Homo sapiens: one gene and its partners. The protein of the gene in region 4 purifies or fractionates together with the protein of the main gene of each other region. This does not show direct contact. Each region holds a gene or a part of one and is shown on either strand. Other genes may lie near its edges.

Evidence for each region. Proteins that work in one complex are often made in the same cells at the same time.
Region 1: the proteins of CDH5 (region 4) and MYO5C purify together in Homo sapiens (affinity purification with mass spectrometry; 2 studies listed by BioGRID and IntAct, with this or other methods). This does not show direct contact.
Region 2: the proteins of CDH5 (region 4) and JUP purify together in Homo sapiens (affinity purification with western blotting; 3 studies listed by BioGRID and IntAct, with this or other methods). This does not show direct contact.
Region 3: the proteins of CDH5 (region 4) and SBF1 purify together in Homo sapiens (affinity purification with mass spectrometry; 2 studies listed by BioGRID and IntAct, with this or other methods). This does not show direct contact.

What each region holds. Positions count from the first base shown.
Region 1 is NC_000015.10:52,247,305-52,250,804, forward strand, and holds part of MYO5C (unconventional myosin-Vc), read right to left. Parts: intron 1,480-3,500; coding exon 1,396-1,479; intron 289-1,395; coding exon 154-288; intron 1-153. UniProt on the Homo sapiens protein: May be involved in transferrin trafficking. Likely to power actin-based membrane trafficking in many physiologically crucial tissues.
Region 2 is NC_000017.11:41,762,712-41,766,211, reverse strand, and holds part of JUP (junction plakoglobin), read left to right. Parts: intron 1-1,144; coding exon 1,145-1,289; intron 1,290-1,395; coding exon 1,396-1,499; intron 1,500-2,890; coding exon 2,891-3,229; intron 3,230-3,500. UniProt on the Homo sapiens protein: Common junctional plaque protein. The membrane-associated plaques are architectural elements in an important strategic position to influence the arrangement and function of both the cytoskeleton and the cells within the tissue.
Region 3 is NC_000022.11:50,458,036-50,461,535, reverse strand, and holds part of SBF1 (myotubularin-related protein 5), read left to right. Parts: coding exon 1-13; intron 14-249; coding exon 250-377; intron 378-823; coding exon 824-1,002; intron 1,003-1,127; coding exon 1,128-1,264; intron 1,265-1,376; coding exon 1,377-1,584; intron 1,585-1,869; coding exon 1,870-2,066; intron 2,067-2,143; coding exon 2,144-2,281; intron 2,282-3,500. UniProt on the Homo sapiens protein: Acts as an adapter for the phosphatase MTMR2 to regulate MTMR2 catalytic activity and subcellular location. Promotes the exchange of GDP to GTP, converting inactive GDP-bound Rab proteins into their active GTP-bound form.
Region 4 is NC_000016.10:66,390,691-66,394,190, forward strand, and holds part of CDH5 (cadherin-5 preproprotein), read left to right. Parts: intron 1-1,445; coding exon 1,446-1,693; intron 1,694-3,500. UniProt on the Homo sapiens protein: Cadherins are calcium-dependent cell adhesion proteins. They preferentially interact with themselves in a homophilic manner in connecting cells; cadherins may thus contribute to the sorting of heterogeneous cell types.

The DNA.
Region 1 (3,500 bases), on a different chromosome or scaffold from region 4:
CGATGAACTTTTTGCAGTGGAGTCCATGTTAGATTGGAAGAGCCCCAGCGTCTGTCCATGTCCAGGCCTGGAATGCGGGTCCTCTGAGTGCCCTGGCTCCCCAGGGCCTGGCCCTGCCTTTAGACCCCTCACTCTCAAACACCTTCTCAGTACCTTGCTCCCAACTGTGGTCCGGAAATGCTTGCTGTTTGGCTTGATGACTTGCTTTGCAGATTTAACTGTAATCATTGAACCAAAAGGAGAAGGAGGAGTTGGATTTTCTTGAAAAAAGTTGGCACAGAGATGAAACTGGAAGGAACAGAGAGGATCTCAATGTCCAAAAGCAACTGCCCACAGTACTCACTCATACAAGCCACGTAAATGGTGACAACAACTCAGCTAAACTAGTGGGCGGTGAACAACCTCACCAACATCTACAGCCAAATCTCAATTCCACAAGACGATCGTCTTTCATAGGGATGGCCCGTGACTTCTTTCCCGAGAAGGGGAACAGAGAAGAAAAGTGTGTAAATGTCTGTATGTGGGTATCACTCTAAGTGTCAGAAAGTGGAAACATCTACTATTCTCACCTCCGTGCCTGGCTCACACTGTGTCTCCACCTGCAATCTCCTCCCTCCTACTCCACATTCTCATCCCTGCAGATCCAAACCCTACCCAGGAATCTCTTAAAATGTTTTCCAGCCCCACCCACTTCGCAATGAATGAATTAATCCCAACTTCTCTGAACCGTCTTCATCTTGTATTTGTACCTCATTTAAAGCACTTACTACCTTCTGCTTTGTATCAGTTATTTCTTTAAATGTCTTATCTTCTCTCAGAGTGAATTTCATATTTTGTTTTGTTTTGTTTTGTTTTGAGACAGGGTCTTGCTCTGCTGCCCAGAAGAAGAGTGCAGTGGCGCAATCATGGCTCACTGCAGCCTCTATCTCCCAGGGCCAAGCAGTCTTCCCCACCTCAGCCTCCCAAGTAGCTGGGACTACAGGCATGTCACCATTCCCTGCTAATGTTTTTTTATATTTTTAGAAGAGACAGGGTCTTGCTTTTTTGGCCAGGCTGGTCTCAAACTTCTGGCCTCAAGCAATCCACCCGCCTCTGCCTCCCAAAATGCGGGGATTACAGGCGTGAGCCACCACGTCTGGCTGGAATTGTGATTCTTCAATGGTTCTATTAGCTGTCCTTCCTGTCATCTGCATGTTTGATTTCTGATTTTGCATATAGTAGAGATTTACAGTAGTTATCTTTTTGAATCTGTGAGCTACAACTTACCACTGTCCAGAGAGTTCACACACACACACACACACACTCTCTCTCTCTCTCTCCTTACTCTTTCCTTATATACATCTAGATCCATGTCAATTATATAATAACTTTAGTTACCCCTAGGACTTTACAGACCTTGCTTGCTCTCAGGATTTCAACCAGCATGTCATAGACGGTGTCTCTGTTTTTCTCCAGGAAACCTTCACATTTATACTCTACCTATACAGAGAAAGCAATTAATTATTCCCAAAGAGGCCAAAGAATATAGCCTCTAAGCACAAGTTTCATCTCTTTTTTAAGAAAGATTAATAAAAAAGGCTACAGAGGCAATCTTACAAAAAGACGTCTGGCTTCTGTGCATCATGGCAGCAGCCCCATTATGTATAAGCTGGGAATGTGTCTTCTCTCCCACCACCTGGGTTTCTCACCTGCCTGCTGATCACTCTGCACTCACCTGTTGGCTCCCTCTGGCCACAGGGGTCCAGTTGCTCCCTGCGGTATGTGCAGTTCCTACAAGAACACCTGACTTAGGTCTCCCTTTGCCTTTGAAGCCACCAGGAGGAGGAAAAAGCTTAGTGGTGTTCATTGGGTTCAAACAGACATCGTTTCCTAAATCAACATTAATGTGGTAGAAAGGATAGAAAAACCGACCAGCTGACCACCAAGCCTTCAAGAGCCACCAAGCCCTCAGAATCAGGTTTAGAGTGGGTCAACCTTTGCACTGCTTGAATCTAGCTTAGAAAAACTCTCCATGCTGCCCTTTCTGATGAAGAAGGCTTCTCGAATGCCTCAAACCATGGCATATCCAGGGTGGCTGCTTCAACATTCAACCTCCCCCTAGTTTATGCCTCTGGATTGCATATCTTAATATGTGATAATTTATTTTTCATAAATTAAAAACGTATATTAAAATTAATTTTAAAAATTGACAATGAGGAAACAGGGGAGAGTGCTGGAATCCGTAAGCAGAGGGTTCCCTGGGCATGGCCTCTGCTTTGTCCCCCAGGTAAGGAAGTATCCTTGCCGGTAGGTAGGTTAAGATCCAGGAACACCGGCTGTTTGCAAACACTTCTTTGTGAATGAAGTACCTGGATTGTTGTACAAATTCTTCCAGAATGGTGGTGTGAGCCACTAGGACAGATAGACAAAGGTGGCAAATACAGAGCTTTCCTGGTCTGGGCGAGCATCTGTGGGGACAGTGTCACATGCAGCTGGTGCCTCTGTTGGGGACTCTGGGACCAAAGGAAGATGTGCTGAGCTGCTACATCTAAGCTCAGCTGACTTGCATTCAATACGACCTGATTTCCCTGGCCAATGAGATTGAAAACCTAATCTAACCCCATAGTGCATGTGGGTTCTTCCCACCAATCAATCCATAGTCCAGCCCAAACGCTGCCTAGTTCTTTTAAGGGAGACTTCTTGGAAGTGGCAGGTGAGAGAATTACATGTCCAGAAACTACATCCTATAAAGAGAGACCCTTGAAAGAAATCCCATATGTGCTTTTTATGGAGTCTGGTCTTTCCCCCTCCCTTTTCCTATGGGACCAGAACCCTGAAATTATGACAATAGCTAGGAAATATAATTTGACATATGATCATTTCATTTCATAGGCATCTTTTCAGGAGCCCATCTGAAAAAGTCTAAGCACTAAAAACTTATCTTTTTTTTTTCTTTTTCTTTTTCTTTTTTTTTTTTGAGACAGGGTCTCACTCTGTCAGCCAGGCTGGAGTGCAGTGGCGTGATCTTGGCTCAATGCAACCTCCGCCTCCCAGGTTCCAGCAATTTTCCTGCCTCAGCCACCTGAGTAGCTGGGATTACAGGTGCGTGCCACCACGCCTGGCTTATTTTTGTATTTTTTAGTAAAGATGGGGTTTCGCCATGTTGGCCAGGCTGGTCTCAAACTCCTGGTCTCAAGCGATCCACCCGCCTCAGCCTCCCAAAGTGCTGGGATTACAGGTGTGAGCCACTGCACCCGGCCAATCCTATATTTTAATATTTTACAGTACTCTGCTAGCACACAAAGGTGATCACAGCTTTCCAGGTTGCTGTCCCCTCCCTCCACCATCAGTCACTCGGGAATGACCAGCTCTGACTCACAGCACCGGCCTCTGCGATAAACATAGACAAGCACAAGCCATTCCTGTGAGCCCTGGCACTGGGCTAGGCCACCAAGGCAACACCCAACCAGGACATGGGAGGAGGTAGGAGCTCCCTTAAGGAAGGAAAACAAATAAGAATG
Region 2 (3,500 bases), on a different chromosome or scaffold from region 4:
GGCATGATCCTAGCTCACTGCATCCTCAAACTCCTGAGCTCAAGCATTCCTCCCATCTTAGTCTTCCTGATAGCTAGGACTATGAGAACATACTACTGAGCTAATTAGCACCCGGGCTAAGTTTTAAATTTTTTGTGGGGATGGTGTCTTGCTCTGTTGCCCAGGCTACCCTCAAGGAATCCTCCTGCTTCAGCCTCCGAAATGCTGGGATTAAAGTCATGGGCCACCATACCCAGCCTACAGATAGCATTTCATTAAGTGGAGACCTCAGGCTTTATTCTGAGGGAGGGTATTTAGATTGCTCCTATTCCACCTTTATAAACAATGCTGTAATGAATGTCTAGCCTTTGTCAAAGAGCGGAAAAAATTCTCATCAATTTTTAACACTTCTAGGCTTTTCCCCAAATGGCCAGATTGATTTCCAGAAGGACTGGACTAATTTCCAGTGCCATAACTGGTAATGGGTGTGCATATAGTTTTGTCATGTCCTTGTCAGCACTGGGTATTATCCTTTTTTCAAAATTTTGGCTTACATAACAGTCATGAAACTATTGGGGTGGGCTGGGTGTGGTGGTTCACGCCTGTAATCCCAGCACTTTGGGAGGCAGAGGCGGGTGAATTGCCTGAGGTCAGGAGTTTGAAACCAGCCTGGCCAACATAGTGAAACCCTGTCTCTACCAAAAACTACAGAAATTAGCCGGGCGTGATGGCACACGCCTGTAATCCCAGCTACTTGGGAGGCTGAGGCATGAGAATTGCTTGAACCCGGGAGGCGGAGGTTGTAGTGACCTGAGATCGTGCCACTGCACTCCAGCCTGGGTGACAGAGCGAGACTCTATCTCAAAAAAAAAAACAAAAAAACTTATTGGGGTGCTTGGCTGGGTGTGGTGGCTCACATCTGTAATCCCAGCACTTTGGGAGGCTGAGGTGTGAGGATCACTTGAGGCCAGGAGTTCTAGACCAGCCTGGGCAGCATAGTGAGACCCCCATCTTTATAAAAAGAAAAAAATACATTAAAAGAAAAAAACGAACTATTCGTGCTTTAGCTGAAGCTCAGTAATGACAGTTCTGTCTCCTGTCCCGCGCTTCCTTGTTCCTGTCATATTCCCCGTCCATCTCACACTCATTCCCTCTTTACCCATAGCTGATCATCCTGGCCAATGGTGGGCCCCAGGCCCTCGTGCAGATCATGCGTAACTACAGTTATGAAAAGCTGCTCTGGACCACCAGTCGTGTGCTCAAGGTGCTATCCGTGTGTCCCAGCAATAAGCCTGCCATTGTGGAGGCTGGTGAGTATGATGGCCTTGAGGGCGGCTGGGGTGGGAGCTCTGCCCAGCTGCCAGGCTCAGTCAGCCATGCTCCCCGTGGCTGATGGCACCCCTATCCCTGCCCCAGGTGGGATGCAGGCCCTGGGCAAGCACCTGACCAGCAACAGCCCCCGCCTGGTGCAGAACTGCCTGTGGACCCTGCGCAACCTCTCAGATGTGGCCACCAAGCAGGTGAGGGAGGTATCTGGGCCTGGGGTTGACCTCTTCAGCTGCCCCATCCAGCCTCCTGTCTGGGCATCTGACCTGAGGTACTGTGGGAGGACTGGGGGCTCTAAATCTCTCTTCCTTGTGACTGAGGCTGGAAATGCCTTGAAAACCCTCATCTCTTTTTTTTTTTTTTTTTTTTTTTCTGACGGAGTCTCACTCTGTCACCTAGGCTGGAGTGCAGTGGTGCAATCTCGGCTCACTGCAAGCTCCGCCTCCTGGGCTCAAGTGATTCTCCTGCCTCAGCCTCCCGAGTAGTTGGGACTACAGGCACCTGCCATCATGTCTGGCTAATTTTTGTATTTTTATTAGAGACAGGGTTTCACCATGTTGGGCAGGCTGGTCTTGAACTCCTGACCTCAGGTGATCCACCCGCCTTGGCCTCCCAAAGTGCTGGGATTACAGGCGTGAGCCACCACATCCAGCAAAAGAACAGTTTTGACCTGGGCCCTGGGCTGGAGCAATAGTGTACCAAGAGACAGGCCCCCATGACTAAAAATACAATTTAAGGAAAAATGCAGCTCCAGGGCAAGTGCCCTGTGCCTCCTTCCAACAACCATTCCCCAGGCCTCCCCTAGCAATATGCTGTTTATCAAGTGCTCACCCTGTGCTGGCCCTCTGCGTGGCATTTGTGGACAGTAGCTCATTCAACCTGGGGTTAGAGTGTGGGACCCTGTGGGTTAGATGAAGACACTGAGGCTCGGGGAGCTAATGGCCATGGTCACAGGTAGTAAATGGCAGAACTGGGATTTGAACCCAGGACTGTCCGTCCCCAAAGCTGGGGTTTTTCTGTTCCACCACAAGGCCCACGTGTCTCCCTGGGAGAAGTGAGATAGACGTCTGAGGTAGTGATTTTACTGGAAATGGATTTGGCTCAGGGCCCCAGGGTGGTGGGGCAGCAGTGAAGGCCCAGAAAGGTGACAAGCGAGTAGACATGGCTCAGCTGGGCCACTGAATCATGCGGCCCCCTCAACAATTGCCTCCTGGTCTCGAGGCCTCCCTTGGCCACCGTACTTTGGCCTGAGGAGGGTTCTGCCTGGGTCTGAGGGCCCCAGGGAAAGGCTGATGAGTTGGAGGGAAGAGATGTGGGGCTTAGAGCCAAGCCTGGGTTCAGATCCAGCCACTAGCTGTGTGTCTGTGGGCAAGTTCCCCAACCTCTCTGAGCCTCATTGCCTCACTTGCACCACAGGATAGTAACGCCCTCTCACAGGGTGTGGCGGGTCATAGGGATGAAAGTTCCCGGGCACACACAGGCAGGGCTGACCCCTTTAGGTCATCCCACTCCCCTTGGACATATTCGAGAAGGCTCCCTGGAGTTGGCTGCTCCCTGACTCCCCCGTCCCTTCCTTGCCCTCCAGGAGGGCCTGGAGAGTGTGCTGAAGATTCTGGTGAATCAGCTGAGTGTGGATGACGTCAACGTCCTCACCTGTGCCACGGGCACACTCTCCAACCTGACATGCAACAACAGCAAGAACAAGACGCTGGTGACACAGAACAGCGGTGTGGAGGCTCTCATCCATGCCATCCTGCGTGCTGGTGACAAGGACGACATCACGGAGCCTGCCGTCTGCGCTCTGCGCCACCTCACTAGCCGCCACCCTGAGGCCGAGATGGCCCAGAACTCTGTGCGTCTCAACTATGGCATCCCAGCCATCGTGAAGCTGCTCAACCAGCCCAACCAGTGGCCACTGGTCAAGGTACTGCTGTTAGGCGAGGGGAAGGAGCTCCCTGCAGCAGGCTTAGGTGCTGTATTGGTATAGGCAAAGCCGCTGTAGCAAAGAAGCCCTAAATACAGTGGCTCGAATAAGACAGAAGTTTATTTCTCTCTCGTGTAATAGTTTAGACCTCAACAATGGCTCTGCTCTAAAATTCCAGAATTGGGATTTCTATCTTGTAGCTCTACCAGCCCCTAGGGCAGAGCTCAGAGTTCAAAATGCACATGAGTACCCTGGGTGGTTTCATTAAATT
Region 3 (3,500 bases), on a different chromosome or scaffold from region 4:
ACGGACCCCCTGGGTGAGCCTGCAGACTCTCTGGCCCTGTCGCCCCCTCTCCCCCAGGTCTTTGGGATGGATGGGCTTTCCCTGCCTCCCTCTCCCTTTTCTCGGGGGTTCTGGGTGCCCGTGGGAAACGGGCCTTTGTCTGCTCCTTCCCCACCCACTTGGGATTCCCCATAACTGTGGTACCCTGAGATTCTGGGACCCCCCCCCCCTTACCTTCCTTGCTTCTGACTCTGCCTGGCCTGTCCTAAGTTGGGGAGCAGGTGGTGGTCCGCTCCTTCCCGGTGGCTGCGCTGACCAAGGAGAAGCGCATCAGCGTCCAGACCCCTGTGGACCAGCTCCTGCAGGACGGGCTCCAGCTGCGCTCCTGCACATTCCAGGTGGGGCGCGGTGCGCGGGTGGGGCTCTCATCCCCCGCCCTGGTCTTTCTCCTGCAAACCGGTCTTTCTTGTATGAACCATTTTTAGGCCAGTCTCCAGCAGTGGCCCTGTTGTTACGCTTGCATGTCTGGGGCCCTCACTGTGGCTCTTGAGTTGATGTCCACTGTTTGATGTGCGGTCTTTGGGTCCTTGTCCTTTCCTTGGGGCGCCGGCCCTCAAGTCCGTGTCTTGGGTGTGCCTTGCAAACCCAGGCCTCAGCTCACAGCCACTGAGATTTCGAGTTTACACAAGCGCTTGCCTTCGTGTGACACAGATACAGGCCTTTGCCTGGGGCCTGCTTCTCTCTCTGTCATGGCTGCGAGGGGAAGGGGAGCCTGGCAGTGTCAGAGTTGGGGGAGGGGCTGGGGGGCCACCCACACCCCTAAGGGCTGCTTTTACTGACACAGCTGCTGAAAATGGCCTTTGACGAGGAGGTGGGGTCTGACAGCGCCGAGCTCTTCCGTAAGCAGCTGCATAAGCTGCGGTACCCGCCGGACATCAGGGCCACCTTTGCGTTCACCTTGGGCTCTGCCCACACACCTGGCCGGCCACCGCGAGTCACCAAGGACAAGGGTCCTTCCCTCAGGTATGGATCTGGGTCCCAGGCAGGGCAGCTGGGCCTCAGCCGTGTTCCCGCTCCAACCCTCCTAGGCCCCTGTGCTCATCTTTGTCCCTCCTCCTCTCACCTTTGCTGACTCTCGTGGGCCTCAGAACCCTGTCCCGGAACCTGGTCAAGAACGCCAAGAAGACCATCGGGCGGCAGCATGTCACTCGCAAGAAGTACAACCCCCCCAGCTGGGAGCACCGGGGCCAGCCGCCCCCTGAGGACCAGGAGGACGAGATCTCAGGTGGAGGGGTGGGGGTGGAGTCCTGGGTGGTCTCTGGATGCTGACATTGGCCAGGGAGGATCAGGGCAGGCGGAGTGGCCCCGTGATGACCACGTGTGCCCGGCCTGTGCAGTGTCGGAGGAGCTGGAGCCCAGCACGCTGACCCCGTCCTCAGCCCTGAAGCCCTCCGACCGCATGACCATGAGCAGCCTGGTGGAAAGGGCTTGCTGTCGCGACTACCAGCGCCTCGGTCTGGGCACCCTGAGCAGCAGCCTGAGCCGGGCCAAGTCTGAGCCCTTCCGCATTTCTCCGGTCAACCGCATGTATGCCATCTGCCGCAGGTGAGGGCCGGCCAGGGCTGGCCCGGGTGGTGGACACGTGACTGGGTGTCTTCCCTGCCCGCTGTGGGCCTGGGCCACGGCTTCTGGTCATGTAAGGAATGTGGAGGGGGAGACTCCGGGCAGAGGGACGGGCCACAGGGCTGGGGGGTGGCTGGGGGGCCCCGTGGCTGAGCTGGAAGCGCCTCCTGCTGGGAGCCATGGGCTGGCTCCTCTTGCCCTGCTTGGGGCGTGAGCCTGGAGGCGGGTGGGGTCGCCAGCCACCTTCACGCCTCTGCCTCCTCTCAGCTACCCAGGGCTGCTGATCGTGCCCCAGAGTGTCCAGGACAACGCCCTGCAGCGCGTGTCCCGCTGCTACCGCCAGAACCGCTTCCCCGTGGTCTGCTGGCGCAGCGGGCGGTCCAAGGCGGTGCTGCTGCGCTCTGGAGGCCTGCATGGCAAAGGTGTCGTCGGCCTCTTCAAGGCCCAGAACGCACCTTCTCCAGGTACCTCCTGCGTCCTGCCCTGTGCCTGCCCTGCCCTATCTCACCCTCCCCTCCCTCAGCTCCGTGTCCTCCCCCAGGCCAGTCCCAGGCGGACTCGAGTAGCCTGGAGCAGGAGAAGTACCTGCAGGCTGTGGTCAGCTCCATGCCCCGCTACGCCGACGCGTCGGGACGCAACACGCTTAGCGGCTTCTCCTCAGCCCACATGGGCAGTCACGGTGAGGGTGCTTGTGGGCAGACGGTGGGGCAGGGGCACTTTGGGGGGCCGTGGTGGCATTTATGGTTTGGCAGGCAGGCCAGGGAGGAGCAGAAACGGCGCTGGTCATGGATGTTTGGGTGTGGGATGAGGAGCATGCCCTCCGGGTGCCGTGGGGCAGGGGCGGGAAGCCTGTCCAGACCAAGTGTGTGCCCAGACCAGGTGTGTGCCCTGACCTCCTGCCCGCCCTGACGTCCTGCCCGCTCTCCACCTCTGCGTCTGCTGCAGCTTCCTGTAGGGTCCTCCGGGTGCTGCCTCTACGCGGCTCTGTCTTACCATTTCCCACAGCCTGGAAACATCCCAGATGCTCCTCTGTCCTGTTCCCTCCCAGTGTCACTGTTTTTCCTCATCCCCCACACTCCACCCTCCCTGCATCCCCCAATCCAGACTGTCTTTGGAGCCTCTGGCCTGGCTCTGCCTGCAGCTTGGCCTCTGTCCTCGTGTGTCCTGGTTCCTTGGGCCTTGCCCGAGCTGGCCTTGCTGTCTCTGTCCCCACCGCCACGCACACTTCACAGGCGCCCTGCACACACTGAGCTAGACTGGCCCCAGGACGGGGTGGCAGATAGGCCCCACACTCACTCCTGTGTCCGGACCACCTGTTCTCTAGTTCAGAAGTGGTTTTGTTTTTCCAGATACCACATTATATACTTACATTTTACAATCGCCCTGTCTTGCTGCCTTCCCACCCCTGCCAGAAACCCTGAGTGGCATTTGCAGGTGGGGCCGCCCCTGCACCCCCCATGCCTGTGCTTCCCACAGAGTCCCTTTTGCGTCTCCGACCATCCCCAGTGCCAGTGGCTGCTGCCTCCCCGTGTCCCCCTCAGTGCCCAGCAATGCTCAGGGGCTCAAGCTTCACTCAGCTGTAGTCGTGGCTTCTAGTCCCAGCCCTGACCTTTTTTTTTTTTTTTTTTTGAGTCGGAGTCTTTCTCTGTCACCCACGCTGGAGTGCGGTGGTGCGATCTCGGCTCACTGCAAGCTCCACCTCCCAGGTTCACGCCATTCTCCTGCCTCAGCCTCCCGAGTAGCTGGGACTACAGGTGCCCGCCACCGCGCCCGGCTGATTTTTTTGTATTGTATTTTTAGTAGAGACAGGGTTTTACCGTGTTAGCCAGGATGATCTCGATCTCCTGACCTGGTGATCCGCCCGCCTCGGCCTCCCAAAGTGCTGGGATTACAGGCGT
Region 4 (3,500 bases):
GACCATCAAAGCTCCAAGGTGGTCATGTGTTCATGGAGACTGTGATCCAGTGTCTTAGGCCGAGTTACTTGGGAAGCAAATCTTAAGGCCATGACTGGGTGTAAATTGTTTATCTGGGAGGTGATCCCAGGAAGCCCCAGGAGCAATGACCCACTGCGGGGTAAGTGTGGAACACATCCCAGAGTTGGAGAAGCTGAGGGTGAAGGAGCTGGGGTATTTATACACCCGCTGTCCGTGGTGTTGACTGGGGGCTGCCCCTGGAGTTATTACCTCTCTGGCACTTTCTGGCCTGCCATGTGTCCTGGCCAGTAGAAATCCATCAGCATGAAGAAAACAGTGAGTAATTGTGGTGACATGGATGGCCACTGACACTGGATGCTGCTGACAGCCAGAGAAGCCAGATTAACTGAATCTGGAAGAGGAGGGAGAGGTCCTGTGAGGGGCATAAAAAATGCCTCTGGAATGGCCATGCAGAGGATTGCAAGTCCTGGGCCTGAGTCCTTCTCTGAACCAGCCCCATGCTGGGGCTTGGAAACACCAAGGAGAGGCAGACACAGCCTCCAGTGTCAGCAAAGGTCTCAGCGAATGGGGAAGACATATGCATGAACAAAAAAAGTACAGCCAGGTGTAAGTGATACACAGCAGCTCTGAACAGGGAGCAATTACCTCTGCTAGGAGGGGTTTCTGAGAGAGCATCTGATTACCTTCTGCTTGGCTTCCTGAGGGATGAGTAGGAGTTTTCTAGGCAGGCAAGGGCAGGAGAAGGATCTTGAGCAAAGGCATAAAGAAAAAGCATGTCCGGCCGGGCCCGGTGGTTCACGCCTCTAATCCCAGCACTTTGTGAGGCCGAGGCAGGTGGATCACCTGAGGTCAGGAGTTTGAGACCAGCCTGGCCAATATGGTGAAACCCCGTCTCTACTAAAAATACCAAAATTAGCTGGGCGTGGTGGCAGGTGCCTGTAATCCCAGCTACTTGGAAGGCTGAGGCAGGAGAATCGCTTGAACCTGGGAGGTGGAAGTTGTAGTGAGCGGAGGTCGTGCCATTGCACTCCAATCTGGGTACCAAGAGCAATATTCTGTCTCAAGAACAAAGAAAAAGCCTGTCCTTAAGGACCTGTGGGTAGAACCACTAGTGACGCTCTTAAGAGCAGGACCATAGTTGATCCATTCTATGTCCCAAACGCTGGAAATAGGGCCAGGCACACAGCCAGGGTTGTGGGTGTGGCCATGAGGCTGCTGAGATGAAATGGGGAGCAGCTGAAGACAGACACCAGGCCCAGCCGCTGTCTTGATGACCTCAGAAATATCACTTGTCGAGGCCATGGGCCCCTCATCTATAAAATGGGTGTCATCCTGGTACTACCTTGCATAGTTGCTGTGCAGATCATGTGCCACACACATGCTTGGCCCAGAGCAGGCACTCACCATCCTTTTTCCTTACGCAGCCTCTGGATTATGAATACATCCAGCAATACAGCTTCATCGTCGAGGCCACAGACCCCACCATCGACCTCCGATACATGAGCCCTCCCGCGGGAAACAGAGCCCAGGTCATTATCAACATCACAGATGTGGACGAGCCCCCCATTTTCCAGCAGCCTTTCTACCACTTCCAGCTGAAGGAAAACCAGAAGAAGCCTCTGATTGGCACAGTGCTGGCCATGGACCCTGATGCGGCTAGGCATAGCATTGGGTAAGGGGGCGTGTGTCGATGAGAATGATAAGGACAATCCGGCCTGGATGTTCCTATGCCTGCTGGTCTGAGGCCAGGACTCAGAGAGGGGAACTGGCTTCTCCTAGCACTTACAGGGAAAGTGACAGAGGCAAGACCAGAAGCCCAAGCTCTTGCACTTGGCAGCCTGGCATCTTGACCTGCCTGGACTCCCCCACCTAGCATGGTCCTGGGCATCCAGAGCTACTTGTCCTCTGTCCGGCCTTGAAGGCTTATTCTCTGCACCACAGCTCTCACCAGTCCTATGTGGTAAGATCTGACAGTCAAGAAAGCAACCAATCAGACGACACACCAGAGGCCCCTTCACTAAAACTGTATTCTTGAATCTATCTTCCCCAAACCACAAAAGTAAGAAGTGTTCATTTTATACAGTGAAACAACACAGAGATCTACCAAGAAAACACTGATAACCCCCACTCTCAGATAACTCATGTTCGTGGCCTAACCTGGTCCTATTGCTCCTTTCTTTTCGTGACCACACAAACATGTGGATGCATTTATGGTGGGTTTGTTGTTGTCTGTTTGCTTTTGATGTTTGATTGTTTTAAAATTTTTTTGGATCATGCCATGCTGGTTTCATCGATATTTGCTCTTCTATCTTAACTAAATTTCTCTTTTACAATCTTTAGAAAAAAATGATATAGTTCCAACAGATACTTTTTAGAGCCATATAATATGCAATAGTAAGTATAAATTCAATTCAATCTTATTTTATTGTAGATGCATAGCTGATTTTGCCAGCACCATTTACTAAATATTATAATAATAAGTCATCGTTTTCCCACCTTCATTATATACTAAGTTTTCTGTATATACCTGTATCTACTTCTAATTCTCTGTCCTATCCATCATTCTATAGCAAAGCTATTCTGTTTTATTCTACTAGCTTGTATAAGTCCATTCTCCTATAAAGAAATAGTTAAGACTGGGTAATTTATAAAGAAAAGAGGTTTAACAGGAAGTATAGTGGCTTCTCCTTCTGGGGAGGCCTCAGAAAACTTACAGTCCTGGGGAAGCAGGCACGTCTTACACGGCCAGAACAGGAGTGGGAAGGGAGTTGTTACACACTTTTCAACAACCTGGTCTCATGATAACTCACTAGCTTGAGAACAGAACCTAGGGGATGGAGCTAACCCATTCATGAGAACTCTGTCCCATGGTCTATCCACCTCCCACCAGGGCCCACCTCCAACACTGGGGATTACATTTCAACATGAGATTCGGTGGGGACACAGATCCAAACCATATAGCTTTACACTAGATCTTAGATATACATAAAAGTCCTTCCCATGTTGCTTTTTTATTTGATATAATTTTTTGTCAACTCTCATTTTTTCTTTTGTGAAATTTAAAATTTTGTATCCAGGTTTTTTAAACATTAGAATTCTAGTGTTTATATATTAATTTTGGTATAGCTAATGTTTCAAGGGTATTAAGTCTTCTTATTAAGGACAAAATATGTTCTTCCATTTTGGCCTCATATCCTAAGTTTTGGGACTACTCTTCATTGCCATTCTTTTCTAAATAGCCTGTAATTATAATTTTTGTTTCTCCTTTGATCCAAGGGTTTATTTAAGAGATTGACTTGATTTCTTTATTTTCATTTATAAGTCATAGGGTGTTTTTTTTGTTTTGCTTTAGCTTGTTCTGTGATGTGATACAATTGTATTTGTGTCCACTTCTTCCTAGAATATCTAAGTTTTGACTTTATGTATTTAAATTTTTCTATTCAGTTAACAAAGGTTTGCAACTATTTTACCTTCATTAT